Linked DNA regions of Homo sapiens. The protein of the gene in region 1 interacts with the protein of each later gene in a biochemical or structural test. Each region holds a gene or a part of one and is shown in the gene's direction. Other genes may lie near its edges.

What was found.
Region 2: the proteins of MARCHF8 (region 1) and CGAS form a complex in vitro, tested with the Homo sapiens proteins (one study listed by BioGRID).
Region 3: the proteins of MARCHF8 (region 1) and NLRP3 form a complex in vitro, tested with the Homo sapiens proteins (one study listed by BioGRID).

What each region holds. Positions count from the first base shown.
Region 1 is NC_000010.11:45,454,016-45,464,919, reverse strand, and holds the end of MARCHF8 (E3 ubiquitin-protein ligase MARCHF8), read left to right. Parts: intron 1-561; exon of another isoform or gene 562-592; coding exon 593-681; intron 682-923; coding exon 924-1,769; intron 1,770-3,508; coding exon 3,509-3,689; intron 3,690-5,042; exon of another isoform or gene 5,043-5,180; intron 5,181-5,652; coding exon 5,653-5,800; intron 5,801-6,376; coding exon 6,377-6,681; 3' UTR 6,682-10,335; downstream 10,336-10,904. UniProt on the Homo sapiens protein: E3 ubiquitin-protein ligase that plays several important roles in innate immunity and adaptive immunity.
Region 2 is NC_000006.12:73,432,969-73,443,872, reverse strand, and holds part of CGAS (cyclic GMP-AMP synthase), read left to right. Parts: intron 1-3,427; coding exon 3,428-3,664; intron 3,665-10,904. UniProt on the Homo sapiens protein: Nucleotidyltransferase that catalyzes the formation of cyclic GMP-AMP (2',3'-cGAMP) from ATP and GTP and plays a key role in innate immunity.
Region 3 is NC_000001.11:247,425,887-247,436,790, forward strand, and holds part of NLRP3 (NACHT, LRR and PYD domains-containing protein 3), read left to right. Parts: intron 1-3,698; coding exon 3,699-3,869; intron 3,870-8,216; coding exon 8,217-8,387; intron 8,388-10,083; coding exon 10,084-10,254; intron 10,255-10,904. UniProt on the Homo sapiens protein: Sensor component of the NLRP3 inflammasome, which mediates inflammasome activation in response to defects in membrane integrity, leading to secretion of inflammatory cytokines IL1B and IL18 and pyroptosis.

The sequences.
Region 1 (10,904 bases):
TTCTGTGCTCTACCTCAGCCCCTGGTTGAGCTATGGATTGGTGTCCCCCATGGTGACGTGGTCTGGACTCCCTTTTGTGTGAAGAGCTGTGGCAGGGCAGTGAGGTTTTGTGGAACTCAGGGAGCATCTGGCACTATGTATGAGGTTGTGAGGTGGGAGAGAGCTCTTAAATCTACCAGCCTTGTTGATCTTGGGAACTAGGAGAGAGTGCTAGGGAAGCCAGTGCCAGCAGGCCTGGAGCCTCATATTTCTTTGGCATTTGTATGATACCTTCTAGTACTTCGTTTTTTGACTTATATATGAACTAACTCAATTTAGATGCTTAGAAAATAAACGGCCACTGGACCTGCAAGAGATTAGTAGTGGTGTTCCATAGCCTTAGACATTTCTTACACTTTTATCCACAGATAAGAAAAAAATAGTGATATTTGATTTGTTTTGCCAAGGCTTAGAAGGATCTAATATGTGTTACTCGTTGAGCAGCGGGAAGCAGCAGACATTTCTAGGGTTTCTCCCTGTCACCATTCAGGAGACAGTGCACACAATCCCCTTGGCTCTTACCTGAACACTGACCACAGGTCTGTCATTGCAGGCTGGGAGTCCTCCGTCAGCATCAGCTCCGGCTCCGGTGTCCTCCTTCTCTCGCACTTCTATCACGCCATCCAGCCAGGACATCTGCAGGTAACACTCTGCTTCAGATGCTGCCATGATCAGTGTGCAGCCAGAAATAAGCATTAGTGTCTGTAGGTTCTTGAATTTCCATTTGCTTAATCAATCTGCCTTTGGTCTAAACAGTTGGCGAGTTTTATGTGTGGTTTGCTCACCAAGTTACCCATGCTAGTCTCATTTCTTCACTATGATGTCTATTCTCTTTTAAAATTGTTTTTACTTTCTGTGCTTTTATCCCACTGTTCTGCATGCAGTTCCAGTGCAGTGTTTTCTGAGTGTTGTCACCACAGTTCCGTGCAGTCTGCTGTTGTCTCGAAAGCTCCTCACTGCCAGAGTTCTCTGACACAAGGGCTCACTGTGACAGTTATCTGTAAGGACACATTACAGGCGTCAAAGAGAAATTCCTTTGGTTCAGAATGGGCCCAGGCCTTGAAGCCTGCTAAGAATACCAAAGCCAGAAGAACACTAAAGTTCTCAAGGTCCCTCAATGATGTGGGTGAGAAGGCGCAGGATACTTCAGAAAGTTTTGCCTATGTGGAAAGAACTTGTTCTGAAGGGAAATTAATACTCCCTCAAGATACGTGTCTCAGAACTAACAGGTTTCATCATAAAGAAAAAAGAACCCTGAACCACAAACCTCTTGGCAATTCCAAACATTCTTGTGTTTCATGCCTTTCTGCCGGTCGCTCAACTGCCTCAGAGGTGGAAGCTGGCAAGGGGGGCAGGCCCGGCCTGCTGCTGGAAGAGAAGGCGGATGGTGAGGCCACGTCCCGAAGCCGGCAACTGCTCCAGTACCTGTTCTCACTCTCGCACGGCTTGAGCGCCAGCAGCCTGCACAGGTTCCATGAGCTGGAGAGCTGCGCTGCTCGCCTGCACACTGCCAAGTCCTCCAGCGGGCTGGCAGGGAGTATGGGCTTCTGCTCTGACGAGATGGGAGACGACGATGTCTTTGAGGACAGCACATCTGCAAAACTGAAGAGTAGGGTTCTGCGGGCGCCCCTCTGCTCCACGGAAAAGGACAGCGACCTGGATTGTCCTTCTCCCTTCTCTGAAAAATTACCCCCCATATCTCCCGTGTCCACGTCAGGGGATGTCTGCAGGTTGGTTTGCCAGGAAGTGCCATTCTAGCCATCTCTGCTCGCATCAGGAACCTCCTCTTGCTTTAGTATGTGAAGTTTCAGGAAAATGAAGTAATAGGAAGTTGTAACCAGTTGTGGGTTGATGGTTTTCTCCAGAAGAATGGAGTATCAATATCGTTTGAAAAACTTAATTTTTATGATGTGAGTCCCAAGATAGTTTTACAAATGATAAAAGAGGAAGAAGCTGGCTGGGCGCAGTGGCTCACGCCTGTAATCCCAGCACTTTGGGAGGCTGAGGCGGGTGGATCACCTGAGGTCAGGAGTTTGAGACCAGCTTGGCCAACGTGGCGAAACCCCGTCTCTACTAAAAATACAAAAATTAGCCGGGCGTGGTGGCGGGCGCCTGTAATCCCAGCTACTCAGGAGGCTGAGGCAGGAGAATTGCTTGAACCCGGGAGGCGGAGGTTGCAGTGAGCCAAGATTGCGCCATTGCACTCCAGCCTGGGCAACAAGAGTGAAACTCTGTCTAAAAAAAAACAAAACAAAACAAAAAAAAAAAGAGGAAGAAGCTACACATATTAAAGGCCAAGCTGACTCTTCTAAACTAAAAATAAGTAGACTTTGCATAAAGAAACTGGAAGAAAGAAACTAGTATCTTCAGTTTTCCAGCCTGATGGTCCAGATTTTAAGCATTGTTGCATCTCCCAGCCTCTTTTTTAACCCTTGCTCCCTACCTACCCCCAAAAGGTGTGTGGGGACTGGCTGTTCTCCAGTAGCTCCTTCCTTCCTTCTTTTTAACTGAGGTGTAGCCACCTATGTCCCATCCTAACTCTGTTTCCCCCCTTTATCTTCCCTTGTGCAGCATCCTTGTCTGGCCTCCATAATTCACTTTTTGTCATGACTCTTGTGCCCTCCTCATTCTGACCTTTCTCCAGTCTCCGCTCCTTAGTGCCAGCTGTCATCATTTCTAACATTTGGATCAGAGATCCCCTCACTAAAACAGCCTGAGAGCCTGGCTCCTTCCAGGACGAGTGCCCCAACCTGTTCTCTAGCTGCTGGAAAAGACCCCTCTGTTTCTTAAAAGCCTGTTAAGTTCCTTCAGGCTAGTAGCTACACCTTGTTGCATACTTCCTTGGAAATAGAGAGTGCTTTCAAATTAATTTCTCACTTATTGCTATTAGTGGTCCCAAGAAAAAGAGATGAAATTGCAGCATCTTGTAATGGTGAGTTTTTTAGGTCTAGGAGAGAGGTACTGTCATCTTTGTTTACTTGCTGAGAGACGACAGAAATGTGTAGTTGTGGGGTATGAAGGTAAAGTCAGTGATTATAGCTAAAAAGCAAACGTCATTTAAGGTCACTGGTATTTTTGGATGTTGGAATGCAGGTTTTGTTTTACATAGAAATTTTCCCTCTAATTATTTTACCATCTTATGTTCTGGAAAATGATTCCATGTTGCTTTAAATTCATCTTTCAGTGAAGTTCTTATTTCTTACCAAAAAATGACAGCTTTGTCATTTCTTACATCGTTTTTTCCTTTCTGTTGCCAAATGCCCTCCAGACTTTCCATGTTGGTGCGGTAAGCTAGACATTTTTAGTTTGTAGTGATTGTTTTCGTTTGTGTTTGTATGTTTTTGTGCCCATAGTCACTTCTGTAATGTTCGTTTCTGAGTTTCCTTTGGGGGGATTAACCTGCCACTGAAGTGTCAGCTTCCCTGTCATGGGACTGTCCTTGGAATGACAGGTTTTCCTTCCACCATAGGATCTGCCACTGTGAAGGAGATGATGAGAGCCCCCTGATCACCCCCTGCCACTGCACAGGAAGCCTCCACTTCGTGCACCAGGCCTGCCTGCAGCAGTGGATCAAGAGCTCCGACACGCGCTGCTGCGAGCTCTGCAAGTATGAGTTCATCATGGAGACCAAGCTGAAGCCACTGAGAAAAGTACGTGGGAGGAAGGGATGCTTCACCCTTCCTGAAACCAGTGACCCCCAGAAAGCTGGTGTCTCAGATCATGAGGTCATGGCTTGCCTGCGTTCATTTCCTTAAAAAGCTGGGGCTGGTGCTTACATTTGCATTGTAGAGATTGTTGTTTCTGGTGCTGATTTTCAAGTCCCTCTTCTCAGGAAGAAGCTCTTTCTGACCATTCATAATCCTTCTTTTCCCTTCAAAGTAAGACTGCTTGCTTGTCGGTGTCAGTCCTCTGGCCTTTGACTACAGACTGTTTGTGACATATCTTAGCACCTAATTTTATACATATTAACTGTTGACGTCCTGCTTCTCTGATTAGGACTGTCTGTTGGAGATTAGTATCTCCCCAGCACCCAGCACAGTGTAGCATACAGTAAATTTATTTGTATACACCCATGATAACTATTTGCTGGATGGGAGTGTGAGTAGGTGGATAGGGAAAAGAAAGGAAGCACAAACGTTGCGTGATGTGCAACTGTCTTCAGAAAGGACCCACAGGCATTGCATGACACGCAGCTGTCTGGAGGCCCATGTCACTGCTCCCTCTGAGAGGAGCTTTGTCCGCCACACTGGCTTCCTGTTTAAATTTTGACTGTTTCATATATCTCTCTAGATGCCCAGCACAAAAGGTTTTGTCTGGAAGAATAAAAAACTGTTCCTATCTCAGAACATTAATATATAAATTGCAAGATAAGTCACATAATCAAATACTAGCCAATTAAATGCTAAATGGTGTGCTGGTAGAGCATAACAGTCATTCAGAAAAGGAAATGCTCATTATGAGCTAGAGTGCTGGGGAAGTGGAGCGATGGTAGCCTCATAGGGTGTTTGGGTTTTAGAGCAGTTCTTGAAGGATCACTAGGATTTGGAGGCAGAGTGCAAGGAGTTTAGAGAGGTCAGGCTGTCTGTGGAGTAAAGCATACCCTAGAAAGGTGAAGGTGAACATTGACAGGGTGTCAAGCTACGTGCGTTGTAGGAAGTAGCAGGGAGCATGGGGCACTGAGGCACTGACTCTGTATTATAGGTAGGAAGACCAGGGAACTTGCTAGTGTATAAAATCCCAGCAGAAAACAACCAGATTTAGAGAAGGCTTGTGCAAACTGCTTAAAAAAATGTTTTGCCCAGTAGAAACCTTGTAATTTATTGGGTGCCTACTCTATGCTAATCTCTCAACATGGGAAGTCCTTGAGGCTCTATTTTCAACTACCCTGCATAGACTCATCTGGAAAGAGGCTGTGACTAGGGTTGGCAAAGGATATGTGCAGAGTGTTTACACATTGTTCTTTCTCTCTACCTTTATGTGTTTTCTCCTGATTCGGAAACCAGTAAATGAAAAAGAAAGTCTGGCTATTTGGAGTAAATTAATGAGCTCCTAGAGGAGATGGGACTAGCAGAGTCTGCTTGTACCAGGAACTCTTAGCGTCGATTTCGAGCTGTTGCTGCCAAAGTAGCAAGGACCAAAGAGTGAGCGTCTTCTGCCATTCACCTTCACAATGTAGTGTGACCCATCTGCTAGTGTGTTGTGGCATCATCAACCCTCTTCTTCCGCTCGTCCATGCCAGTCAGCACATCAGGGAGACTTAAAACGTAGTACCTGGGTCCTGGGCCAACATACTGTTTTCATTAGGACTGAAATCATAGAATTCTTTATCAGGCCATCTTATGTCTGCTTGCAAGAATAAGCAGACAAGGGGATTTTTGATGGTAGTTCTGCATTCATCTTGATCCTGGCTTCTTTTCATTGCATAGAAAGTTGGCTGCACCTGGTACCTGGTTGAAGCCAAGTGGTTTTAGGAGAACAATACTTGGGGGAATGCATCTAGTTTGGGAAGGGAGAAGTGGGGTGGAAAGCCAATCTTACCTACCTACAATGCTCTCACCCCACCGGAGCCCTTCCCCAGAAGCCTGAGCCTCACACTCTGTGTTGTCTTTCTAGTGGGAGAAGTTGCAGATGACGTCCAGCGAGCGCAGGAAGATCATGTGCTCAGTGACATTCCACGTCATTGCCATCACATGTGTGGTCTGGTCCTTGTATGTGCTCATTGACCGTACTGCTGAGGAGATCAAGCAGGGGCAGGCAACAGGTGAGTTCTCAGGCTGGAGCAAGCTCAGCATGGGGGCCGGGATAGCTCACAGGAGTCCTGGGGTCAGAGGATTTTCCAGTTAGCCAAAAACGTCTGGGTTTCCGGAGGAGGGACATCAGTTAGGAGGCACTAGCCTCCTTTTTGGCATTTCTTTTGCTGTGGTGGTAGTTTTTGAAACCCAGTCAGGAGAGTTCATATTCTGGAGCATGAGAATCTCCGCAAACTACATCCTATAAAAGCAGGAAGTAGCTGGACACTGTCTTCCACTCTTCTTTGACTGAGCAACATTGGATGAGTTGTGAATCCATTGGTCAGTGGTGCAGGCTTGTGGTCCCCAGATACTTGAGGCTGAGGGATGGAGGATTGCTGAGGCTCAGGAGTTCAAGGCTGTAGTGTGCCATGATCACACCTGTGAATAGCCACTGCACTCCAGCCTGGGCAACATAGCAAGACTCCATCTCTTAAAAAACAACAACAACAACAAAGAATCAGTTGATTATGGGAAGTTCAGAAGTTGTGTTTTTCTTTACTTCATATCTTAAATAAAATCTAATAGGCTGAGTTTTTCCCTTCCAGGAATCCTAGAATGGCCCTTTTGGACTAAATTGGTGGTTGTGGCCATCGGCTTCACCGGAGGACTTCTTTTTATGTATGTTCAGTGTAAAGTGTATGTGCAATTGTGGAAGAGACTCAAGGCCTATAATAGAGTGATCTATGTTCAAAACTGTCCAGAAACAAGCAAAAAGAATATTTTTGAAAAATCTCCACTAACAGAGCCCAACTTTGAAAATAAACATGGATATGGAATCTGTCATTCCGACACAAACTCTTCTTGTTGCACAGAGCCTGAAGACACTGGAGCAGAAATCATTCACGTCTGATTGTGTGCGGGTTGTCATTTTCCTGGACATCCATGAAGAGCTGAAGGAAATTGTTTACTGCCAATTGTATACCTTTCTTATGTCCTTTAATAGCATAGACTGGACAGGTGACTATTTATAGTGGCTTCTCTTTTTCTAAACCCTCCTTAGTCTCCTAGAAAACCTTCCTGTGGGCCAGGCATGCCTGGGTCCTGCCTCTGCCTGGCAGCTCTGTGGGAAAGTGGAAGACCCCATGATGACATCATGGGGAGCCAGCAGAGTTCCTGCCCATGGTCTTGAGCTGAATGAGAGAATAAAATGCCAATCCCAAGGGAAGAGGAGGAGCAGGGGTGCCCAGGCCCTGATACCCAGCCGCCTCCAGCTTGCAGTGGTCCCCAGCCTGGAGCAGAGCATTGGGGAGTGTCTAGCCATGACGAGAAGATTCCCTCTGCATCACGGCGAACCCCAGGAGATGGTATTGAAACAGACCCCCAAACACAGACTCCTGCCTGCCCTCTGCCGATGCTGCCTCCTCCATGCTCTTGAGCAGGTGGAGCCATGGTGCTCTGTGGTGGCGCATGATTCACTGAGCAAACAGCACTTTACAGAAGAAAATCTTTATTTTGTAATATGTGTGTCCAGCGGGATTGACACTCAAAAAAAGTCTCACTTAGAAATCTTCCCTTCCTTACCTTTGTATCTCCTTTACATCATGAGAGATCAAAAATCCATTTTGCCTTACATATGCTAAGAAGCGTGGCATTCTTTCTGTTCATAAAACAGACTCATGACTTTTAAGACAGGACAAGCAGGCCAGAGGCTTTTTTTTTAATCACAGATCTCATGGGAATTAGTGGATGCTAAATGGCAATTAAAGCATGATTCCTATGCTTTTGAGCCTGTTTTATGACAAGGTGTTACTTTGTAGACCTGGCCCATACATTTCTTTTTTGTCAACACTGAAAAAGAACAGTTTCTGAGATCGAAATGGAAGGAAAGGAAGTGAGTAATGACAACAAAACTGAATATTTAAAAAATATTCCTTTATAGTTAAATCTCTCCAGTTGGTGTTGGCTTCACATTGAAAGAGCAGCCATGTGCCACCCTGGCCGGGGTGTGTGCACTGCATGCAGGTTCTCCCTTGCATGCAAGATGGGTGCTGGCCCACTGTGAGGCTTCTGCTCGGGGAAGTTCTGTGGAGTCACTACCAGGGCCAAGAGGCAGGTGGGCTGGCTCTGGGACGAGGGCCAGGTGTGAGCAAACTGCCAGGGTCCGCTGTGCCACTGCTCCCCGGCCACATGCCCGCCCAGCTGTCGCCTTAACCAGACTGAACAGACAGGATCCTTCAGGGCCCTTGGCCCCACTCTCAGTGCATTCTGTCATCAGGGATTACCACCTGTACCATTTTCATAAAACAAAACCAAAATCACTACCATCAAATGGCCTTGTCCCTCTAAAAAGTCTGCTTAAAATTCTGTTTTTAAAACCCAGTTTCCTAGTTTTCCAGGCAAATAGTTACCTCCGGGAAAGTTGCTGGGGGGGCCTGAAGCACAATGTAGCGCAGATGCTTCCTTTCCAGGCCATTCTCTCACCCAGCCTGCACGGAGGAGATGGGAGATGCTGGGGGTCCTGCCCTCAGTCTTTTTGGGCCTTAGGCGTTTCGTTCATCCTGCTAAGGGGATGAAGCAAACACGAGGTGATTCCTTTGCCTTTCAGAGTGGAAGCCCTGGAGTTTGTTTTGAAGGCCAGGAGGCTGAAGGATCTCTAAGCTACGGTGTGGGCTTAATAGCAGCAGGCTTTGTCCTCCTGTCTCCTCCAAGCCAGTGTCTGATTCCTTGGCAACACAGGTCTTAGTCTGTGGAGTGGCTCTGCTGTGGCCTTCCTCTGGCCGGGCAGGCACTGTCCAGCCATAGCCAGCTCCTGAGAATAGGTCAGCCTCTCCTTTCTGTCTCCCAGGGCACATCCAGCCCGTGCCTGTGTTCACTGTGCCCCGAAGTGCAATTACCCATACCCCTTCTCAGCCTGGGGACCCCAGGCAACCACAGACTGTCCACTCAGGGGAGCTGAATCCCAGGTCAGCCCTGCCAATGTCCCTTAGGAACTGCCCAGGCAAGGCCCCTGGTTTTGTATACTTGTTCCTGCCACCCAGCAGTAGATGAGTGTTTCAGGTGAAGACCAGGATAGATTTTCTAAGTGTGAATCCCCACTTCACATATGGAACCCCTTATGCTGAACTTGAAAAGCACCAAGACTTCCTGTAGACAAGAAAGTGCTTAGGTAGGGACAGCCCCTGGGCATCCCACCCAATGTAGCTGGCACCCCACTATGGCAAAGGTGCCTTGATAACTGAGCCCTGTATCCCTCCCATGCCCAGCCAGATTCTCATGGGAAGCCCTCTCCCTTCTTTTCTGCCTAACACCATCTCATCGTTTCTGGCCTCACTGTGGACAATCCACACACATTCTTCTTTCCTCTCCTGGCGGGGCACAGAGCCACCCCCTTGCCTTTTCTTTTCTTGAAGGTTCTAGTTCAGCTCCTGATTCATCAGACCCTTCTAGCCCCCTGCATCTAGCAGTGAAGCATGAAGCCTGGTGGGGATGTGGTACTCCCATCTGGTGTGGCCACCAGCTCTGCCAATGTTCCTGTAGCCTTGGAAAACTTGCTCTCTCGGTTCTTTTGGGTGCTGTGTACTCCCCAGCTTCCCCCCTTCCCCCCCCATTTTGCACCTGGGTTTAGTGAAAGGATGGCATTTGGTTGACCCATATAGAAACCCAGAATGAGGTCTCAGGGCCAGGAGGCCTGGTATTTGTAGGCCAGGGAAGGGGAAGAGGCAAGTGGTCTGGGGTATCACCAGCCAGCCCTCTCTGATTTGGCCTCTACTCCCCATAAGTCACAGTACCATAAGCAGGCTTCTGGCCTCAGCAATTTGGTCTTTGTGCCCAAGTTTATTGTGAGAATTTCCTGAAAACTCTATAAAAGGTCTCTTCCTACTGTAGGCCTCTAATGTTTCTCCCCTTTTTGCTTCAGTCCACTCTTCAGTCTTGTAGGCCTAGTTTTCAAACCTGCACATGTGTCCTACCTGGCCACAGGCATGCAGGCCTCAGGCAGCTGGGCCAGTTTGGGAGCCTCGGGTGATGTCTGCACGATCTGGGGCTGCCTCTGCACCCCTGCTGTGGGCTTCAGGGTTGGAGAAGGGCTGGGACCAACCGGGTGAGATCCACAAGTCTCTGGATGTGGCTGAAGGCAAATACACAATTGAAGTACTTTCTGTTTTGAAGTGCTTTCCCTTTTGAATCTGGTTTGAAACATGCAGCTTCTGTCTCTAGCCCAAGGAAAGACCAAAACATAGGGAAATAAAAGCATTTATCTTTGTCTTGGAAGTAATTGTTGAAGTTGTGCAGTTGATCAGTGCACAGTTAGATGCAATGTTTATAGAAATTGATTGTTAAACCAAATTTACACTGGCATGTGTGGTGTAGTTTCTAAAAGGCACTTCACATTTGAAATTTTTCTTACCTTAGAAAGTTTCTAGTGATCTAAATGTCTAGTTTTGTATTCTTTTGTGTGTGTTCACTGTTTCTCAGTATTACCACTTGAATAATTCTCTGTACAGGGGGGTTTGTGCTATACACTGGGATGTCTAATTGCAGCAATAAAGCCTTTCTTTAAAAAGGAGTTTTGCCATGAGAGTGTTTTGCTGCAGGGAGGCTGGGGACGTTGGCAGGCACTCCGGTTCCCTGACCTCCTTTCCAGGGTTGTCTGGCTTACACATCAGGAAATAGTATGCGGCTCCTGGAGGTGTCTGTTTTCCTCAGCCTCCCTCAGACACGTGTGTCGGGGGTGGGCTGGCAGTGTCTGGACGAGTGTGTGGGATGGGAGTGAAAACAGGCATTTCTCACAGGTGTGCTTGCTTCAAACATCCCGTTCCTACCTGAGCTCACCACCCTGAGAGAAGGCAGACTCGAGTCTGTCGCTGCATGACCATGGAGCACTAGATTATGATCCAGCCTTATCCATAGAAATTTGTCCTGACCCACAGCCCAGCTGAGAAAGCACCAGGGAGACCAGCAGGGTTGCCAGTGACAGCTCTGCCACGCTGCATCCCCTGGCTCTGGCAAGGCCTCTGAGGGAAGGCAGTGCCACGATCCTCAGACAGCAAACCGCCCACAGGTCTGGGAGTGCTGAGGCCTGGTTGCAGCTTCCCTACCACATGCATGGCAAGGGTCAGAGGTTGCAGGAGGTGA
Region 2 (10,904 bases), on another chromosome or scaffold:
CCAAGCTCTTTTTTTCTGCCTCAGGGCTTGGCTCCACCACCCCATTCCACCCTAATTGCTATCACTTTTCCCAGTTTATTCCCTTCAGAGCACTCACTGCAATTTGTGTTGTATGTTATTACGCTATTAGATTAAGAGCTTTATCTTGCAAGCACAGACGTACAATTAATAACAAATGGAAAAAATGATTATCTTGTATACTGGAAAGTAGTAAGTGCTGTTGTGAAGAAGTATAGCAAAGTGAGAGGGATCAGGAATGTGGGAGATGGAGGTGGGGGGGAAGTTGCAATGTTAAGTAGAGTGGTAAGAAGAGAATTCCATTAGAGTTTGGGAAGAGCCAGGCGCCGTGGCTCACGCCTGTAATCCCAACACTTTGGGAGGCCGAGGCGGGTGGATCACGAGGTCAGGAGTTCAAGACCAGCCTGGCCAAGATGGTGAAACCCCGTCTTGACTAAAAATACAAAAAACTAGCCGGGCGTGGTGGCGGGTGCCTGTAATCCCAGCTACTTGGGAGGCTGAGGCAGAGAATTTCTTGAACCCAGAAGGCGGAGGTTGCAGTGAGCTGAGACCGCGCCACTGAACTCCAGCCTGGGCGACAGAGTGAGACCCTGTCTCAGAAAAAAAAAAAAAAAAAAAAGAGTTTGGGAAGAAGAGAATGAACAAAAGGAGACTATGAGTGTTTTGTAGAAGGAGCGGTCAGTGTTTGGAATGCTACTGACATCCAGAAATCCAATGGATTTGTTCTTTGGTCTTGTGGGGTTGACAAGAGAAATGTCAGTGGGGTGATGGACACAGAGTGAAAAGGCAGGGTTGCAGTGGAGATAACATGTGTAGGCCACTCTAGAAAGTTCTGTCTGGGCTAACTGTGGTGTCTCAGCACTTTGGGAGGCCAAGGCAGAAGGATTGCTTGAGCCCAGGAGTTCAAGACCAGCCTGGGCAACAAAGTGAGAGTCCATCTCTACAAAAAAAAATTTTAGGCCAGGTATGGTGGCTCATGCCTGTAATCCCAGCACTTTGGGAGGCCAAGGTGGGCGGATCACAAGGTCAGGAGTTCAAGACCAGCCTGGCCAAGATGATGAAACCCCGTCTGTACTAAAAATACAAAAATTAGCCAGGCGTGGTGGCAGACACCTATAATCATAGCTACTCAGGAAGTTGAGGCAAAAGAATTGCTTGAGCCTGGGAGACAGAGGTTGCAGTGAGCTGAGATTGCGCCACTGCACTCCAGCCTGAGCGACAGAGCAAGACTGTCTCAGAAAAAAAAAAAAAAAAAAAGAAAGAAAAAAGAAAAAAACATTTTTTTAATTAGCCAGGAGTGGTGGCATGTGCCTGTGGTCCCAGCTACATACGATGCTGAGGCAAGAGGATTGCTTGAACCTAGGAGGTTGAGGCTGCAGTGAGCCATGTTCACGCTACTGCACTCCAGCCTGGGTGACAGAACGGGACCCTGTCTCAAAAAAAAAAAAAAGTTTGGGCTGGAAGGAAGCAGAAAGATGGGTGAGTATGGAGAGGAGGAAGATGTGGGGTGAAAGGAGAGGTATACCCTATAACCCTTTGTATGAATTTCAGAATAATCTAGCAGGGAGGGAGAGATGGCTGATGTAGGAGAGGAAATACTTGAAGAGCATGGTACTTGAGAAGTTGAGAAGGAAGGGATCCAGAGACTATGGGCAGAGGTGGCCTTTGAAAGGTAGATGGAGGGCCAGGCACAGTGGCTCACACTTGTAACCCTAGCACTTTGGGAGGCCAAGGTAGGCAGATCATTTGAGCTCAAGAGTTCAAGACCAGCCTGGCCAACATGGTGAAACCCTGTCTCTACTAAAAATACAAAAATTAGCCAGGTGTGGTGGTGCATGCCTGTAATCCCAGCGACTCAGGAGGTTGAGGCAGGAGAATCACTTGAAGCTGGGAGGTGGAGTTTGCAGTGAGCTGATATCACACCACTGCACTGCATCCAGCCTGGGCTACAGAGCAAGACTTTGTCTCAAAAAAAAGTAAGGTAGATGGACACTTACTTCCTCAGTGGTAACAGGAGAGGTGGCCAGGTTTGGGTAACAGGTGGCCAGGTTTGCAGATTTTTCTAGCATTTTCTCCTTTGTGCTCTACTTCGTCACTGTGGAAGTCTTATCTGACAGTAGTAGTCTTTACTGCTTATAAACCCCCAACTCCCAAAGCCATCTAAATTTCTGACCATAGCCACCCACCCAGCAGCCATCTCCACTTGAGTGTCCCACAGGTATCTAGAGCTCATTGTATCTCATGAAGTTCAGCTTGGCCCAATCTTTCTTCTTCCTGCTTATTCTATTTTGAGGAATGGAACCAACATCAGCCATTAGGCCTAGGAAGGCCAAGATCCTGGGATGGCATCCCAAGGCTCCTACTTTCCTCCTCACATCGTAGCCTCAACTCATGACCACTTATGTTGATTTGGACTTCTTTAGTTGCTCTCACTTCTTCCCCGTGTCTTGATGCTCACTACCTCTGTGCTGCCGTGGCACCCAGCCTCTGTGCCAGGCTGTTGCTGTGGTCTTTTTGCTGCCTGTCTCTTCCCTCTTGCCCATCTGGCCTCTCCTCTAGGCTTCCCTCCATTCTGCCATCTATAATTTGTAATGAAAATTTAACCAGGCACAGTGGCACATGCCTGTAATCCCAGCTACTCAGGAAGCTGAGGCAGGAGGATCAATTGAACCCGGGAGGCAGAAGTTGCAGTGAGCCGAGATCGTGCCACTGCACTCCAGCCTGGGCAACAAGACAATAAGAGTGAAACTCTGTCTCAAAAAAAAAAAAAAAGAAAAAGAAAAAGAAAAAAGAAAAGAAAAGAAAAGAAGAAAATTTAATCACAGCACTCTTAAACCTCAAAGTCTACAGAGACCCCTTCATCATATATGCCCCACACCATCTTGACAATGCCTCCCAATGGGAGATATCAGTAATTATTGTGTTTTTTGTTTTTTGTTTTTTTTTCTTTTTTGAGACAGAGTCTTAATCTGTCGCCCAGGCTGGAGTGCAGTCATGTGATCTCGGCTCACTGCAACCTCCGCCTCCTGGGTTCAAGTGATTCTCATGCCTCAGCCTCCCGAGTAGCTGGGATTACAGGCATTCGCCACCATGCCCGGCTAATTTTTGTATTTTTAGTAGAGATGGGGTTCCACCATGTTGGCCAGGCTGGTCTCGAACTCCTGACCTCAAGTGATCCACCTGTCTCGGCCTCCCAAAGTGCTGCGATTACAGGCATGAGCCATCATGCCCAGCCAATATTGGTTTAGTAAAATACTTTGCCTTTTAGAGCCAGTTTCTGTTTTACCACTAATGTTTACTTCATACTTAGCACACCAGAGATCTTCAATTATAGTTACATTATTTCCCCTGTATTTCCAGAGAAAATTGGATTAATAAATACTTTCTTTTCTTTTATATGTTCAACCAGATACAGATGTCATCATGAAGAGGAAAAGAGGAGGGAGCCCTGCTGTAACACTTCTTATTAGTGAAAAAATATCTGTGGATATAACCCTGGCTTTGGAATCAAAAAGTAGCTGGCCTGCTAGCACCCAAGAAGGCCTGCGCATTCAAAACTGGCTTTCAGCAAAAGTTAGGAAGCAACTACGACTAAAGCCATTTTACCTTGTACCCAAGCATGCAAAGGAAGGAAATGGTTTCCAAGGTATTTTAAATATTAAAGTTAACTTAAAGAAGTAAAAGAGTTGTTAATGTTATATGTTCAGGCAGTAAAAGATCAACAGCCAACCAATGCTGTTGTCATTTCAAGAGCCATCAGGCAAAATAGGTTATAAGATGGGAGTCTGGTGACAGACAGAATTGAAAAGGGCAAAGTTGTAGTATTAATATCAAATACTCAGCTTTAAAATGTCTAGCAATCCATATTTGAATTTTATTTTATTTTTTTCGGTAAAGAAAAGCAGTATTGGCCTTGGAGTCAGACTGCCCTGGTTCTGAATCCTGAGGCTCCTTCTACTAGTTGTGTGAATTCGAGCTAGTTATGATGCTTTCTAAACCCATTTGCTCATCCGTACACTGTGTTAACCAAAAGTACTTGAAAAATTCTGGAAAGATAAAATGTGCATGCAGTTCTGTGGCCAATTCTGTTCATGCCAGTTATACGTTATTACATATTAATATTATCATTAGAGTCTAGACTCTCATTCTCAGCCCTGGTTCTCTCTTTCCTTCATCTTCCCATTCCACTGCTCCTATGCAGCGTGTCTCAGCCTCACAGATCAGGACGGGTTTTCAGGCTGTGCTCTTGGGTAAAATTCAACTTCCAAGAAACAGACTGAGTTGGTCTACAGCTAAAACTTTATAATGGTGATATTTTTGAAGGTAGAAGGAAGTAACTTTTTTTTTTCTTTCTTTCTTTTTTTTTTTTTCCTGAGACAGAGTTTTGCTCTTGTTGCCCAGGCTGAAGTGCAGTGGCACAATCTCAGCTTGCTGCAACCTCTGCCTCCCGGGTTAAAGCGATTCTCCTGCCCCATCCTCCCGAGTAGCTGGGACTACAGGTGCCCGCTACCATGCCTGGCTAATTTTTTGTATTTTTAGTAGAGACGGGGTTTCACCATGTTGGCCAGGCTGGTCTCAAACTCCTGGGAAGTAGCTTTTTTCCTTGTGATTTAGTCTAAAAAAAAAAAGAAAGTAGCTGATTATTTTCATTTTCTCCCATAGATTTATATAGGACTTTTGGCACCTACTACTATTGGATTCCAGGGAAATTGAAGGAGACCATAAAACAAATGAACCAAGTTATAAATGAGTATTGCTGAAAAAAGCCCAGAAATAGTCAATCATGCTTAGTTTGATGGTTTGTGTTTTTGTGGACACACATCATAACTTCATATATTGCATACATAGAGGAATCATTTTCTGTAAGAAAAATAGTCTATGAAGGGTACTTACATATATCATTATTCATGTTTTTACAAAATGAATTATAGCTTTCTGCAAAGAGGTTGTTCTGCAAACTGAACAATTTTTAGAATAGCTGCCCCAGGAAACCCTCACTGTAAGTGATACAAAAATTGCAACAGGACCCCATACCATCTCTTGCTGACCCCATACTGTCCTGAGGAACACTGGAAGGTAAATCACCTTAGAGATGAAGAAGAGTCCTTTGGTGGCCCTGTGGCCTATGTGGTTAGGCAGTTCTTTTTTTTTTTTTTTTTTGAGACGGATTCTTGCTTTGTTGCCCAGGCTGGAGTGCAGTGGTGTGAACTTGGCTCACTGCAACCTCTGCCTCCTGGCTCAAGCGATTCTCCTGCCTCAGCCTCATGAGTAGCTGGGACTACAGGCGCATGCCACCACGCGAGGCTAATTTTTGTATTTTTAGTAGAGACAGGGTTTCATTATGTTGGCCAGGATGGTCTCCATCTCTTGACCTCGTGATCCACCCGCCTCAGCCTCCCAAAGTGCTGGGATTACAGGCGTGAGCCACTGCATCTAGCCATGGTTAGGGAGTTCTTTTCATTCTTCCATTAAAATGAAAGAAAGTGAAGGCTGGTGCTGGATGCTTAGCTTCACCTCTGCTTTCTGTTACCCTTGGCTGTTCTGCATCTGCCATCATTCCAGATTATGTATAATTAGACAAAACTCTGCTTCTGTGTATGTGTGTGAGTGTATGTGAACAGAGGGACTTAACAGTGAAAATACTTGTACTAGATTGGAGACACTTATAACACCTGCTATATCTTTTCTTTCTCTAAACATTCTACTAGAAATTCCCTGGTCTCACAAGCTATATTTTTAAAAATATTATGTTTTTGTTTTTATTTATTTTTATTTGTTTATTTTTTGAGACAGAGTCTCGCTGTGTCGCCCAGGCTGGAGTGCAGTGGTGCAATCTTGGCTCACTGCAACCTCCACCTCCTGGGTTCAAAAGATTCTCCCACTTCAGCATCTCGAGTAGCTGGGACTACAGGTGCGTGCCACCATGCCCAGCTAATTTTTTGTATTTTTAGTAGAGACTGGGTTTCACCATATTGGCCAGGCTGATCTCGAACTCCCAACTTCAGGTGATCCACCCATCTCCATCTCCCAAAGATTACAGGCATGAGCCACTGTGCCTGGCCTTGTTTTTATTGATTTTTGATTAAAAATTTTAAATTTTAAAAATTTACCTGTTGCAAAATAATACTAGTTTTATTACCAAGGATATAATTTATTTAAAGAACAGTTTATGATTTACTTGCAGTTTTTTTGTTCTTAAGATAAAAGGACAGTCAAAATATGAGGTTTTTAACCCACTCAAAAAAATGTTCAGCCAGGCGCAGTGGCCCATGCCTATAGTCTCAGCTACTCAGGAAGTTGAGGCGGGAGGATTGCTTGAGCCCAGGGGTTCAGGGCTGTAGTGAGCTATGATCATGCCACTGCACTCCATCCTGGGTAACATAGCAAGAAGTCCTCTATACCCCGCCTGCCAAAAAAAAAGTCTCTGGACAGTTTAACTCAACATAGGTAAATTAACTTGTTTCATTATGTTATCTGTTTTTAGATACTGGTTTTTAAATTTTGATTTAATTCGTTTCATAAATTTATAAAGCATATACGTGGTTCCAAAGTCAAAGCTATGGAAAAAGGTACAGTTAGAGAAACATCTTCTGTTCATGTCCTCTCCACACTCTTCTCTCCTTCCCTGATTAGAAACCTTTTTAATTGTTTTTAGTTTACCCTTCCATGTTTTATTTTTTATTTTATTTATTTATTTATTTTTGAGACAGAGTCTCGCTCTGTTGCCCAGGCTGGAGCGCAGTGGGGCAATCTTGGCTCACTGCAGCCTTCGCCTCCCAGGTTCAAGTGATTCTCCTGCCTCAGCCTCCAGGAGTAGATGGGATTACAGGTGTGTGCCACCACGCCTGGCTAATTTTTGTGTTTTTAGTAGAGATGAGGTTTCACCACGCTGGCCAGGCTGCTCTTGAACTCCCAACCTCAGGTGGTCCACCCACCTTGGCCTCCCAAAGTACTGGGATTACAGGCGTGAGCCACCGTGCCTGGCCTTCCGTGTTTTAAAAGTGTAAGTAAATATATTCTCTCTCTCTCTCTCTCATTCATGTAATGGCTCAAACCTATAATCCAGTACTTTGGGAGGCTGAAGTGGGTGGATCATTTGAGCTCAGGAGTTCGAGACCAGCGTGGGCAACATGGTGAAAGCCTGTCTCTACTAAAAATACAAAAATTAGCCAGGTGTGGTGGTGCAAGCCTGTAGTCCCAACTATTCAAGAGGCTGATGTCAGGGGATCACTTGAGCCCTGGAGGTTGAGGCTGCAGTGAGCCAAGATGGTGCCACTGCACTCTAGCCTGGGTAACAGAGTGAGACCCTGTCTCAAAAACAAAGAAAAAGGTGTCCCTTTTATTTTAAAAAGGGGATGGCATATAAATGTGTATATAGTATATAATATAAATTATATACAATGTTTTATATTATATGACATATTACATATAAATTATACATAATATATTACATGTAAATACTTATGTAAATATATTCATATAAATACTTATATTTAATATATATTTTTAAGATAAAGAAGTCAGGTAAAAACTAAGGAAATCTGGATAAAGTATAGACTTTAGTTAACAATAATGTATCAATATTGGTTTATTGTACCAATGTATTTTATGAATATGGGATGTTAATAATAGGGAAATGGGGGTGCAGTGGCATGTGCTTATAGTCCTAGTTTCCTCAGCCTTCGGGAGGCTGAGGCAGGAGGATCATTGAGCCCAGGAGTTAGGGTTGTTCTTCTTGGAGCTGAACTCCTGGGTTCAAGTGATCCTCCCGTCTCAGTCTCCCACCTCCCAAGTAGCTGAGATTACAGGTGCACGACACTGTAATCAGTGGACATGTTTTCAAGTGGGTTTAAAACTTGGTATTTTGACTGTCCTTTTATCTTAAGGACAAAAAACTGCAAAAAAATTATAAGCTGTTTTTTATAAGTGTATTATTGGTAATAATACTGGTATTACTTTGAAAAAGGTAGATTGAACATAAATATTAGATAATATAGTAATTTATATACATACAAAATATATTTGTATGCTACCCCCTTTTTAAATAAAAGGTACACTTTTTTTTTTTTTTTTTTTAAAGTAGACACAGGGTCTTGCTATGTTGCCCAGGCTGGTCTCAAACTCCTGGCCTAAAGCAGTCCTCCCACTTTGGCCTCCTAAAGTGCTGGGATTATAGGCATGAGCCATCATGGCCAGGACATATGTTTTTCTTTTTAATTTTATTAATTTGGTTTATTTTTTAATTTTATAGACGCCCTGCTCTCAGATATAACACTTTTTTTCTTTTAATTTAACAAGATATTTTCGATCTCACTCCATACCTCTATATAGAGAAAACACCCATTCCTTTTTAAAGTCTATTTTTACAGCTGGTCAAAGAGTAAATCGTTATGTAATATTGCTAGGCATTTCCCAGATCTCCATAGGCATCATTCCAATTTGCTTTTCCACAGCAATGTATCAGAGTACCTGTTTCACTCTCAACCTCACTGACTTGTTAAACTTTTTGCCAATTGAAATTCTTGCCAGTGAGAAAATGATATCTCAAAAAGTAAGAAATGATATCTCAGTGTAGTTTATTTAAAAATAAACTTTTTGTTTTAGCATAGTTTTGTATTTACAGAAAAATTGTGAAGATAGTACAGAGAGTTCCCGTATAACCCCATACCCATTCCCCTGGGGTTTTTTCTGGGGGAGGTAGTGGGGCAGAGTTTCACTATGTTGCCCATGCTGGTCTTGAACTGAGCTCAATGATCCTCCCACCTCACCTTATCAAGTAACTGGGACTACAGACACGTGCCACTGCAGCACCCCCATTTTCCTATTATTAATATCTCACATTAATACAATACATTTAATAATTAATAAACCAATATTGATATATTATTGTTAGCTAAGGGCTATATCTGCTGGGCACAGTGGGTCTTGCCTGTAATCCCAGCACTTTGGGAGGCCGAGGTGGGCAGATCACCTGAAATCAAGAGTTCGAAACCACCCTGGCCAACATGGCAAAACCCCGTCTCTACTAAAAAAATACAAAAATTAGCCAGGCGTGGTGGCATGTGACTTAGTCCCAGCTACTCAGGAGGCCGAGACAGGAGAATCACTTGAACTTGGTGGGTGGAGTTGCAGTGAGCCAAGATCATGCCACTGCACTCCAGTCTAGGAGACACAGCGAGACTCCATTAAAAAAAAAAATTATATACTTTATCCAGATTTCCTTAGTTTTTCTTAATGTCCTTTTACTGTTCCAAGATCCCATTTAGGATACCATATTGCATTTAGTTGTCATGTCTCCTTAAGCTACTCTTGACTGTGACAGTTTTTTGGTTTTAACAGTTTTGAGGAGTACTAGTTAGGTATTTTGTAGAATGTCCTTTACTTGAGATTTCTTTATTATGTTTCTTATGATTAGATCAGAGTTATTGGTTTGGGGGAGGAAGGTCACAGAGGCAAAGTGCCATCCTTATCAAATTTTATCAACGGTACGTGCCACCTTTCTTTACAGTCATGTACAGTTGACCCTCAGGATTGGCTCCAGGGTACCCTGCAGACACCGAAGTCCACAGATGCTCAAATCCCTTACATAAAATGATATAATACAGTTGGCCCTCCATATCTGTGGGTTTCAATTCACGATTGGTTGAATTCTCAGATGTGAAACCCTCAGATACAGAGGGCCAACCGTATTGTGTAGCTATCCCTGAACTCTTTATTCTGTCCCATTAAAATCTTTGTCTATCTTTGTACCATGTTGTTGTACATAATGTAGCTTTATAATTAGTCTCAATATCTTTTAGGGCAAGTTCTACCACTTCGTTTTTCTCCAAGGGTGTCTGAGAGAGTCTTGACCCTTTACATTCTCATATAAATTTTGAAATCAGCTTTTCAGATTCCACAAAATACTTTTTGGAATTTTGATTGAGATAATGTTGAATCTATAGATAAATTTGGGGCCAGGAATGATGACTTATGCCTGTAATTCCAGCACTTCAGAAGGCTGAGGAAGGAGAGTTGCTTTAGGTGAGGGGTTCAAGACCATCTTGGACAACACTGTGTAAAAACTCTAGCCAGGCGTGGTGGCTCACGCCTGTAATCCCAGCACTTTGGAAGGCCAAGGTGAGTGGATTACGAGGTCAAGAGATCGAGACCATCCTGGCCAACATGGTAAGACCCCATTTCTACTAAAAATACAAAAATTAGCTGGGCATGGTGGCACGTGCCTGTAGTCCTAGCTACTCGGGAGGCTGAGGCAGGAGAATCGCTTGAACCCAGGAGGCAGAGGTTGCAGTGAGCCAAGATCACGCCATTGCACTCCAGCCTGGTGACAGAGAGAGACTCCGTCTCAAAAAAAAATTAAAAAAAAAAAACTCTCTATAAAAGTTTTTATAGAGAGTTGTGAGTCTTCATCTCTATAAAAACTTTTTAAAAATTAGCCAGGCGTGGTGGTGTGCACTTGTAGCTTGTAGTCTTAGTTACGCAAGAGAATCACTTAAGCTCAGGAGTTCGAGGTTACAGTGAGCTATGATCTTGCCACTGCACTCCAGCCTGGGCAACATAACAAGACACTGTCTGTATTAAAAAAAAAAAACATGGGAGAGAGTTGATATGTTAACAATATTGAGTCTCCCAATCCACTTATTTACATCTCCTCTAATACTTCCCAGCTTCATTCATTAGCATTTTCTCTGCAGAGGTTTTGTATATCTTTTGTTAATTTATTCATAGGTAATTGATCTATTTTAAAACTATTTATTTATTTATTTATTTTGAGATGGAGTCTCGCTCTGTCACCCAGGCTGGAGTGCAGTGGTGCGATCTCGGCTCACTGCACCCTCCACCTCCTGGGTTCAAGCGATTCTCCTGCCTCAGCCTCCTGAGTAGCT
Region 3 (10,904 bases), on another chromosome or scaffold:
AACTGAAATTTCTTGTAAGCTACTTGGAGCACTAGTGCCTAAGAGTCAGTCAATGTCTGTGGGGCAGAACAATGCCAGAGAGTCTGTGTCCCAGGAGCGAGGGGACAGAGGGCCTCAGAGCTGGAGGCTGGGGGGATGTTTCTTAGAAATGTGCAATCTAAGCCTCCTTTAAGGAATGGTGGGACCTGGGCGCATAGAGAAGAAATTAAAGGAATTCTGCACTGAAGACTGGTATGAGCCAAATCATGAATGCAGTCTGAGAAAAAGTGTGTGCAGGTGACAGTGGAGAGAGACACAGTTTCCTTGGAAAAAAACATGATGAAGGTAAATCAAGGGAAATAGAGCAGAAATGTGGAGACCCTCTTTCTAGGCCCCCATGTTGCTCTGCACTGGGCATTGCCAAAACCCCGTTTTCGGGTCTGTTCACACACTTGCTGGGTGGTTGGAAGCTAGTGGCCAAGTCTGTGCAATGAAGTGGTTGAGTCACCTGACTTCTGAGTCCCTTTTGGGTTTATCGTTCAGTGCCTCCTGCAGAAGGACCACCCACAGTGGTTGTAGGAAGGTGGCCACCCTGTGATGTGTGAGTTTAGCCTGGATAGAAGACACTTGACGTGGGGCAAAATTAAGGGAAACAGGAGGCTTGGCCCTTCCACAGGCAACAATGAGTTTCAGCTTTCTTGATCCGTTGACATTACCATGACCAGGACCACCTTCCTAGTCATGGTTTGGCCATGAAGGACTGACTGCCCACAGGGCCGCAGTGGTGGTGAAGACCCAGGTCCTGGTCACAGGGACTTGAGGTCTGGCTGTGGGACAGTCCGGAAACAAGTGCAGATGTCGGGGAGGGGGTCATGGGCTCTGACAAGGAAACTTGCAGAGTATCCAAAGCACAAGGGGACGAACCTGTTCACCAGCGGGGCACGGGTGGGTGTCCCCGCTCAGCCAGCTTCCGGAGGATGGGCAGTGAGAGAGTGAGAGAAGGAAAGGGGCAGCCAGGCTGGGGGCTTACGGTGTTGAGAGAGAGGGCAGGTGTGGGAAAGCAGGGTACGGTTTCTACGGCAGCAAACAGTTCCGAGTGACTGGAAAAAAGACAGTTGTCTTCATTCATCAGGTTGCCATAACAAAACACTGCAGGCTGGTTGGCTTATAAGCAAAAGGAAGGTTCACCTTACGGTTCTGGAGGCTGGGAAGTCCATGATCCAGGCTCTGGCAGATCTGGTGTTTGGTGAGGGCCTGTTCCCTGGTCGATGGTGCCTTCTCACTGTGTCCTTACATGGTGAAGAGGCAAGGCAGCTCTCTGGGGTCCCTTTCCTAAGGACAGCAATCCCACTCCTGAGGGCTCCACCCTCATAACTTAACCACACCTCAAAGGCCCCATCGCCTGATACGTCATGTTGAGGGTTAGGATTTCAGCGTATGGATTTTGGGGCACACAAACATTCAGACCATAGAAATGGGAGAAGAAGAGTAAGACAGAGAGAAAAGTAGGCAGAACTACTCATTAAGAGTGAGGTGGAAGGTGGAGAGGGCAGGGAGACCTTATGAAGATCACACATCTGTGAGGAAGGTTTGCACACTCTCACTGAAGCCCCGGTAGGAGGCTCAGCACCCATTTCTCTAGATAGCACCTTCCTTCCTCTGAGGACAGATTCTGACTGGAGCCCTGGTAGGGGGCTCAGCACCCATCCCTCTAGATGGCACCTGCCTTACTCTGAGGACAGACTCTCACTGAAGCCCCGGTAGGAGGCTCAGCACCCATTTCTCTAGATAGCACCTTCCTTCCTCTGAGGACAGACTCTGATTGGAGCCCTGGCAGGGGGCTCAGCACCCATTTCTCTAGATAGCACCTTCCTTCCTCTGAGGACAGACTCTCACTGAAGCCCCGGTAGGAGGCTCAGCACCCATTTCTCTAGATAGCACCTTCCTTCCTCTGAGGACAGACTCTGATTGGAGCCCTGGCAGGGGGCTCAGCACCCATCCCTCTAGATGGCACCTGCCTTACTCTGAGGACAGACTCTCACTGAAGCCCCGGTAGGAGGCTCAGCAACCATTTCTCTAGATAGCACCTTCCTTCCTCTGAGGACAGACTCTGATTGGAGCCCTGGCAGGGGGCTCAGCACCCATTTCTCTAGATAGCACCTTCCTTCCTCTGAGGACAGACTCTCACTGAAGCCCCGGTAGGAGGCTCAGCACCCATTTCTCTAGATAGCACCTTCCTTCCTCAGGACAGACTCTGACTGGAACCCTGGTAGGGGGCTCAGCACCCATCCCTCTAGATGGCACCTGCCTTACTCTGAGGACAGACTCTGACGGGAGCCCTGGTAGGGGGCTCAGCACCCATCCCTCTAGATGGCACCTGCCTTACTCTGAGGACAGACTCTGACTGGAGCCCTGGTAGGGGGCTCAGCACCCATCTTTCTAGATGGCAGCTGCCTTACTCTGAGGGCAGGAGCTTGCTTTGTATGTTCCAGTCCCTTCTGAGAACCAGAAGCCTGAGCATCTATTAGAAATGCAGGATTGTGGACCCAATCTTAGACCTAGAGAGCTAGACTTTGCATTTGAATGAGAGCTACAGGTGATTCAAAGGTGACTGCATGTGTGGGTGCAGTGGCTCTTGCCTGTAATCCTAGGTTTTGGGAGGCCAAGATGGGGGGATTGCTTGAAGCCAGGAATTCAAGTCCTACCTGAGCAGCAAAGTGAGAGCACCTCTCTACAGAAAAACAAAAGCAAAAATGTGACTGCATGTTGGAGCCACCTGGCTTTTTTTAAATAAAAAAGATCCATATAGCTGGACACAGTGACTCGTGCCTGTAACCTCAGCTACTCGGGAGGCTGAGGCAAGAGGATTGCTTGAGCCCAGGAGTTTGAGGCTGCAGTGAGCTATGATCATGGCACTGCATTCCAGCTTGGGTTTCATCTGAAAAAAAATTTAAAAAATTCATCTAGTTCCACCTCAGAGCTTCTGATTTTATTTCCATGGATGTGGCCTGGGCTTGCGATTTTCTTTTTCTTTTTTTTTTTTTTGAGATGAAGTCTTGCTCTGTTGCCCAGGCTGGAGTGCTGTGGCATGATCTTGGCTCACTGCAACTTCCACCTCCCAGGTTCAAGTGATTCTCCTGCCTCAGCCTCCCTAATAGCTGGGATGACAGGCTCGTGCCACCACACCCAATTAATTTTTGTATTTTTAGTAGAGAGAGGGTTTCACCATGTTGGCCAGGCTGATCTTGAACTCCTGACCTCAGGTGATCTGCCCGCCTCGGCCTCCCAAAGTGCTGGGATTACAGGTGTGAGCCACCATGCCCAGCCTGGCCTGAGGATTTTTGTGAGCACTCCTGATGCTGTTGTGTAGCCAGGAGTGAGGACTGCCCTCTGATCACCCAGCACAGAACGTTCAGGGCCATGTTGGGACAGTGGACTGGTAAGGGCGAGAGGAGGACACTGGGGAGCAGGCTGTAGGGTGCCACAGTCCGCCACAGTCACAGGCTCATGCTCTCCGTCCGAGAGGAGGCAGAACTGCTTTTACCAAGGCTCATCCAGCCCTCTTCATTTCTCTGGGAACAATTTTTGGTTTCGTGACCCATTTCTTAATCCCCGGAAGGCATTTCTCTGAACTGGTGCCAGGCACCCCGGCCCCCAGCTCCAGTTAGTTATTATTCGAGGCTGATTTCTTTTCTGTCTGTCTTCCTTCTAATTCCTAGATTGGTGAACAGCCACCTCACTTCCAGTTTTTGCCGGGGCCTCTTTTCAGTTCTGAGCACCAGCCAGAGTCTAACTGAATTGGACCTCAGTGACAATTCTCTGGGGGACCCAGGGATGAGAGTGTTGTGTGAAACGCTCCAGCATCCTGGCTGTAACATTCGGAGATTGTGGTGAGTCCCCGTGCATGTGATCTGTGTGAGTGCAAGTTCATATGAGAGAGAGAGAGAGAAACAGACTGGAGAAAGATCTTCAGGACCAGGTTGCTGGTGTGGTTTCTTTCTTTTCTTTTTCTTTTTTTCTTTTTTTGAGGCAGAGTTTTGCTCTTATTGCCCAGGCTGGAGTGCAATGCCGTGACCTCGGCTCACTGCAATCTCTGCCTCCTGGGTTCAAGTGATTCTCCTGCCTCAGCCTCCTGAGTAGCTGGGATTACAGGCACCCACCACCATACCCAGCTAATTTTTTGTATTTTTAGTAGAGATGGGGTTTCATCATGTTGTCCAGGCTAGTCTCGAAGTCCTGACCTCAGGTGATCCGCCCGCCTCGGCCTCCCAAAATGCTGGGATTACAGGCATGAGCCACCGCACCCGGCCGGTGGTGTGGTTTCTGCTGTAACAAAGTGCCACAGACTGAATGGCTTCAACAACAAAAATTCATTTTCTTGCAGTTCTGAGGCCGAAAGTCTAAGATCAAGGTGTCAGCAGGGTTGGTTTCTTCTGAGGCCGCCCTCCTTGGTTTGTAGATGCCCCCTTCTCCCTGTGTACTGATGCCATCTTGCCTTGGGGGGAAGAGTGGCCTAGTCTCCTCTTCTTACAGGGACAGCAGTCCTGATGGATTAGGCACAGTCAGGCATGACTACACAAGACCTAATGTTAATCTAGTCACTCCTTTAAAGACCCCATTTCCCAAAACAGCCACATTATGAGGTCTTGAGGATTAGGGCTTCAACATGTAAATTTTTGGGGGGGCACAGTTCAGCCCAGAACAAGTGAGAAGGTAGAATGGGTTGGAGGCCAGCTGGGGAAGTTTTGTGTGGGGAAGAATGAATGAGGAACTAAAAAAAAAGTCATTTCTTGAAACAACCATGATGCTCGATATATTCCATTTCCTCATGGGCCATGTTCATAGATGAGAGTTGGAGAATTTGCCATTTACAACAATGGCAACCTCACCTAAAAACTATGAAAATACTTTTTTTTTTTTTCTTTGAGACAGGACCTCTCTCTGTCACCCAGGCTGGAGTGTGTGATCACAGCTTACTGCAGCCTCGACCTCCCAGGCTCAAGCAATCCTCCCACCTCAGCTCCCCCGAGTAGCTGGGACTACAGGCATGCACCACCATGCTGGCTAATTTTTGTATTTTTTTTGTAGAGATGTGGTCTCATCACGTTGCCCAGCCTGGTCAGAATGCTTTGTATGGGTTGAAATGTCACAGGGAATCTCCTGTGACTTTATTAATAATGTGCTTGCTCACACCTGTAGTCCCAGCTACTCGGGAGGCTGAGGCAGGAGAACTGTGTGTACCCGGGAGGCGGAGATGGCAGTGAGCCGAGATCGTGCCATTGCACTCCAGCCTGGGTGACAGAGCGAGATTCCATTTCAAAATAATAATAATAATAATAATAATAAAAAATGTGCTTGCTTTCTCCCACACCATGAATCAGATTCACACGCCCCACCGCGCTGGTGCCTGGGCCGCCTCACTAGCTCTGTTTCATTCCCTGCTCTGTGGACGCATGCAGGCGTCTGCATTTTTGAGGAGCTGCACAGCAAGTGTTAAAGTCCGCCACTCTAGGACATTTTGCTACCTCCCTCTCCGGCTCAACACACTCACCTTGTCACCAGTCTTATCAATTTTTCCTCCTACCCGAGCTGTTTTCCACTTTTCCTCGTCCTCACCCCACCAGCCCAGGTCCAGCAACTGTCACCACTTGCCTGGACACGCAGTGACCTCCTAGACCATCAGCTCCCCGGGGATGGGGTTTGCGTTTGTTTGTCTTGCTGTCATCTTTGCCACGCCTGGACAGACATCTTAGTACCCATCAGTGGTCAAAAGCACGCACTGAATGAATGTTGGCTCTTTGGTCTCCCTGTGTCTGCCTTTTTCCCTCACCCGACCATTCTCTGCACAAAAGTAAGATGGTCCTTTAGAAAATTCTGATTCGATTGTGCTGTTCGGTGGCTTAAATGCTTTCTGTCTGCTCTGCTCTTTATTTTTTACTTTATGTATTTATTTTTGTAGATGTAGGGGGCGCAAGAGCAGCTTTGTTTCATGGATATGTTACTGCACAGTGGTAGTGTCTGGGCTTTTACTGTAACTACCCCTTTTTTTTTGAGATGGACTCTCGCCGTGTTGCCCAGGCTGGAGTACAGTGGAGTGATCTCGGCTCACTGCAACATCCACCTCCTGGGTTCAAGCAATTCTTCGAGTAGTTGGGATTACAGGCATGGGCCACCACGCCCAGCTGATTTTTGTATTTTTAGTAGGGACAAGGTTTCACCGTATTGGCTAGGCTGGTCTCAAACTCCTGACCTCGTGATCCACCCGCCTCGGCCTCCCAAAGTGCTGGGATTACAGGCGTGAGCCACCGTGCCCGGCCTTAGTGTAACTCTTACCCAAATAGTGAACATTGTACCCAATAAATAATTTTCCAGCCCTCACCTGGCTCCCACCCTCCCACCCTTCTGAGGCTCTAGTGTCTATCATTCCATGCTCTATGGATGTTACCCTTTGTTTAGCTCCCACTTGTAAGTGAGAACGTGTGGTATTTGACTCTGTTTCTGAGTTGTTTCACTTAAGGTAATGGCCTCCAGTTCCATCTGTGTGGCTTCAAAGATGTGACTTCATTCTTTTCTATGGCTGAGCAGTATTCCATTATGTATATAGATCACACTCTTCATCTTTGCTCTTTTGGTAAATTTCAAATCGTAGTGCCATGGAGACTGGTTGTTTGGGACATTTAACCTTATTTCTCCAACTTCATGCCCAAATTCTCTCCCCACTGCCATTGCCCCTGTATGATTCTGGAGAGGCAGACACAAACAGGGAAGGGTAGGGGACAGTGAGATGCTTCGCAGAGAAGTAGAGATCCATTTGTCCATTTGCTTGAAGTTGGTGTAAGGATAGGGACAGAAAGGAAGGTGGTCTAACAGGCTCCAGGACCTATGAACTATTGCCCTGGAAAGAAGCTAGAATGTTGTTCTTGCCCCCATGACAGGGATAAAGTATAGTTTTTGTTGCTGGTGGTGGTGGTGACGGTGGTAGTGATGTGCGTGTGTGTTTGTGTGCATGTGTGTGACGGGGAAACTAATCAAGAATCAGAGCTGCAGCGGGATGTGGAATCCCAGCACTTTGAGAGGCTGAGGTGGGCAGATCACCTGAGCCCAGGAGTTCAAAACCAGCCTGAGCAAGCTGGTGAGACCTTGTCTTTAGAAGATAATAATAATAATAAAAATAAAATATAAATAAAATAAAATGGCTAAGCATGGTAGCACATGCCTGTATTTGCAGCCACTTGGGAGGCTGAGGCAGGTGGATCCCTTGAGCCCAGGAGTTCGAGGTGGCAGTGAGCTATGATCTCGCCAGTGCACTCCAGCCTGTGCAACAAAGTGAGACCCTGTCTTTAAAAAAAGAAAAGAAAAGAAAAGAAAAAGAATCAGAGCTGCTTTTCCTTTCAATATAGATGGAGGGCTGGGATGAAATCGTCAAACACAATGGGGTGACAATGTTGGTGAAGACAAGAAATAGCTGAGTGCAGCACTGGCGAGGGCAGTGCCGACTGCGGGCACGTCAATGGTTAGGAACACGAGGGAAGGAGGTGGGTGCACAGGCCCACACCGCCCGCTTCACTTACAAACCAGGAGCGCACCATTCACATGTCTGGGGGGTGATCTCAATGCACCCGGCACTGTTTACGGCCGGGAGTTCACTGACAGGTGATCCCTCTGCTGTGACTGGGGAGACTGGGGGCTGACCTCCCAATGTGCCTTGTGCTGTATTCCGGAGCTCTCTGGTCAGGTGTATTCTGATGCTTTCTCTATTCCAGAGCTCTCTGGTCAGGTGTGTCCTGATGCTTTCTCTATTCCAGAGCTCTCTGGTCAGGTGTGTCCTGATGCTTTCTCTATTCCGGAGCTCTCTGGTCAGGTGTGTCCTGATGCTTTCTCTATTCCGGAGCTCTCTGGTCAGGTGTGTCCTGATGCATTCTCTATTCCAGAGCTCTCTGGTCAGGTGTGTCCTGATGCTTTCTCTATTCCAGAGCTCTCTTGTCAGGTGTGTCCTGATGCTTTCTCTATTCTGGAGCTCTCTGGTCAGATGTGTTCTGATGCTTTCTCTATTCCGGAGCTCTCTGGTCAGGTGTGTTCTGATGCTTTCTGTATTCCGGAGCTCTCTGATCAGATGTGTTCTGATGCTTTCTCTATTCCGGAGCTTCCTGATCAGGTGTGTCCTGATGCTTCCTCTGTTCTGGAGCTCTCTGGTCAGGTGTGTTCTGATGCTTTCTGCCTCTGTTCTTGGCATGAAGGTTGGGGCGCTGTGGCCTCTCGCATGAGTGCTGCTTCGACATCTCCTTGGTCCTCAGCAGCAACCAGAAGCTGGTGGAGCTGGACCTGAGTGACAACGCCCTCGGTGACTTCGGAATCAGACTTCTGTGTGTGGGACTGAAGCACCTGTTGTGCAATCTGAAGAAGCTCTGGTGAGTCGAGCCCGTTCCCCTAAGGAAGTTCTGCCAGCGAGGCGTGCTGCGCACTCTGGCTTCAGTGAGGCCCGGTGGGCTGGGGTTTGAGTGAGAATGGCCTTGGCGGCTCGGGTGACTGCGTGTGCTTGTCTTGGGGTGTCTAGCATTGCGGTCAGTGAGTGTTTGTCGTGGGGAAAGCCACACACTCAACCCTGACAAGGAGCATAAATAATAACAAAAAGAAGATGTCTGCCTTTAGGGTGCCTACTGCCTAGCTGACAAAAAGAAAAAATCAGTGTAATGCATTGCTTTAGAGGAGTTTTAGAACTTCATGACAAGCCCTGGGTCCTCATATTGTATAAGAAAAATGGTGCTAAAGCAATGCAGACCCTCGATGTTGTATGCAGCCCTTCCCTGAGTGCTTCTGGGAGACTTGCATTTTGAAGGAGAGAAAAAACCACTTAAAAATGGAAGGGCCATTTCTCACCCATTAGGATGGCTATTATCAAACAAAAGCAAGAAAACTAGAAAACAACAAGTATTGGTGTGGGTGCGGAGAAATGGAAGCCATTGTGTGTTGCTGGTGGGAATGTAAATGATGCAGCCACTATGGAAAACAGCACAGCAATTCCTAAAAAATAAATACAGAATTACTACTGGAGCCAGCATTTCCACTGCTGGGTATATCTGCAAAAGAGTTCAAAGCAGGAACTCAGCCAGGAGCGGTGGCTCACACCTGTAATCCCAGCATTTTGGGAGGCTGAGGCAGGTGGATCACTGGAGGTCGGGAGTTCGAGACTAGCCTGGCCATCATAGTAAAACCTTGTCTCTACTAAAAATACAAAAATTAGCCAGGCATGGTGGTGCATGCCTGTAATCCCAGTTACTCGGGGTGGAGGCAAGAGAATCTTTTGAACCTGGGAGGCGGGGGTTGCAGTGAGTCAAGATCCCGTCACTGTACTCCCGCCTGGGTGACAGAGGAAGCATTAAAAAAAACAGAAGGCAGGAACTCAAACATGTTATTTGTACATCTATGTCCATAGCAACACTATTAGAAATAGCCAAAAGGTGGAAATAACCAAACGTCCTTCAACGGATGAAGGGTGTTGAAAAGTGCTATATATGTACATTCAGCTTTAAAAAGAATTCTAGTACACACTACAACATGGATGAGCCTCGGGGACATTATGCTAAGTAAGATAAGCTAGACTCGAAAGGGCAAATACTCTGATTGTCCTTATAGGAGGTGTCTAGAACAGACAGATTCATAGAGACAGGAAGAAACGTGGTTGCAGGCAATGGGAGGGCGGAGAGTGGGAAGACATTGTTTAATGGTTATGGAGTTTCAGTTCTGCAAGATGAAAGGAGTTCTGGAGATGGTGGTGGTGATGGTTGCACAACAATGTGAAGTGCTTAAGGCCATTAATTGTGCACTTAAAAATGGTTAAAATGGTAAATTTTATTTTACACGTATTTTACCACAATAAAGCTGAATGTAGGGAGCTGGGAAGATGTAGTATTGGTGGGAGCTTGGAGAATGCTTACTTGTTATTCCACCAAATGGAAAAGGAAATCAGAAGTGTACATAGAGCTTGTGTCCACTCCCTTTCCATGTGTAAACTGGAGTAGAGGCAGTGGCAGGTACGGGTGCTTCCTTGTCCATGGTGGAGCGTGGGTGAGAGACATGACTGACATTCTGCCATCTCTATGGAAGGTTGGTCAGCTGCTGCCTCACATCAGCATGTTGTCAGGATCTTGCATCAGTATTGAGCACCAGCCATTCCCTGACCAGACTCTATGTGGGGGAGAATGCCTTGGGAGACTCAGGAGTCGCAATTTTATGTGAAAAAGCCAAGAATCCACAGTGTAACCTGCAGAAACTGGGGTAAGTCTTCATGGGTGTCTTACCAGAAAAGTAACTTCTTTTCAGAGGTGAATTATTTGGAAAATGTGGATGGGGGTTACTTTGGTCAGGCAGAGCTGAAGGTAGAGTAAGGAGGTAAAAACATCAGAAATGCTTTGAAGGACTGGAGGCATATAATGTATACTGCTGCTAATAAGATAATTTATGCTAATTTATGATTATAGAACTAGAGTTTCTTAGTGTTGGAAGAAACCTTAGAGATGGTGCAGCCCAATTGCCTGTTGAGGGAAAAACTTGCTTCCAAGACACTCACATGAATAGTCACCCATTTTATGTGTGCATGCTTGCAAGCATGCAAGTTATCGCATAGTGCATGCAGCCTCTACACTAGGAAAGAGCTCTCACCCTGCAGCCTCTACACTAGGAGAGGACTCTTACACTGCAGCCTCTATATCCTCAACAGTGTCATGGCTCAGCACCTTCACCTATGTAGCCATGCTCTCCCAGGTACACAGGCTGGTTTGTTAGTGTCTGTCTTTGAAATGTGGTGCCCAGACCTGATGATGCATGGTGGATGTTTTACCTCCTGTTGCAGAGAACTATGGTTTCACTGGTGGAATCTCTGATTTCCTTGTTTTTTTTGGCAGTTACATAAGCCTTTTGATTCATGT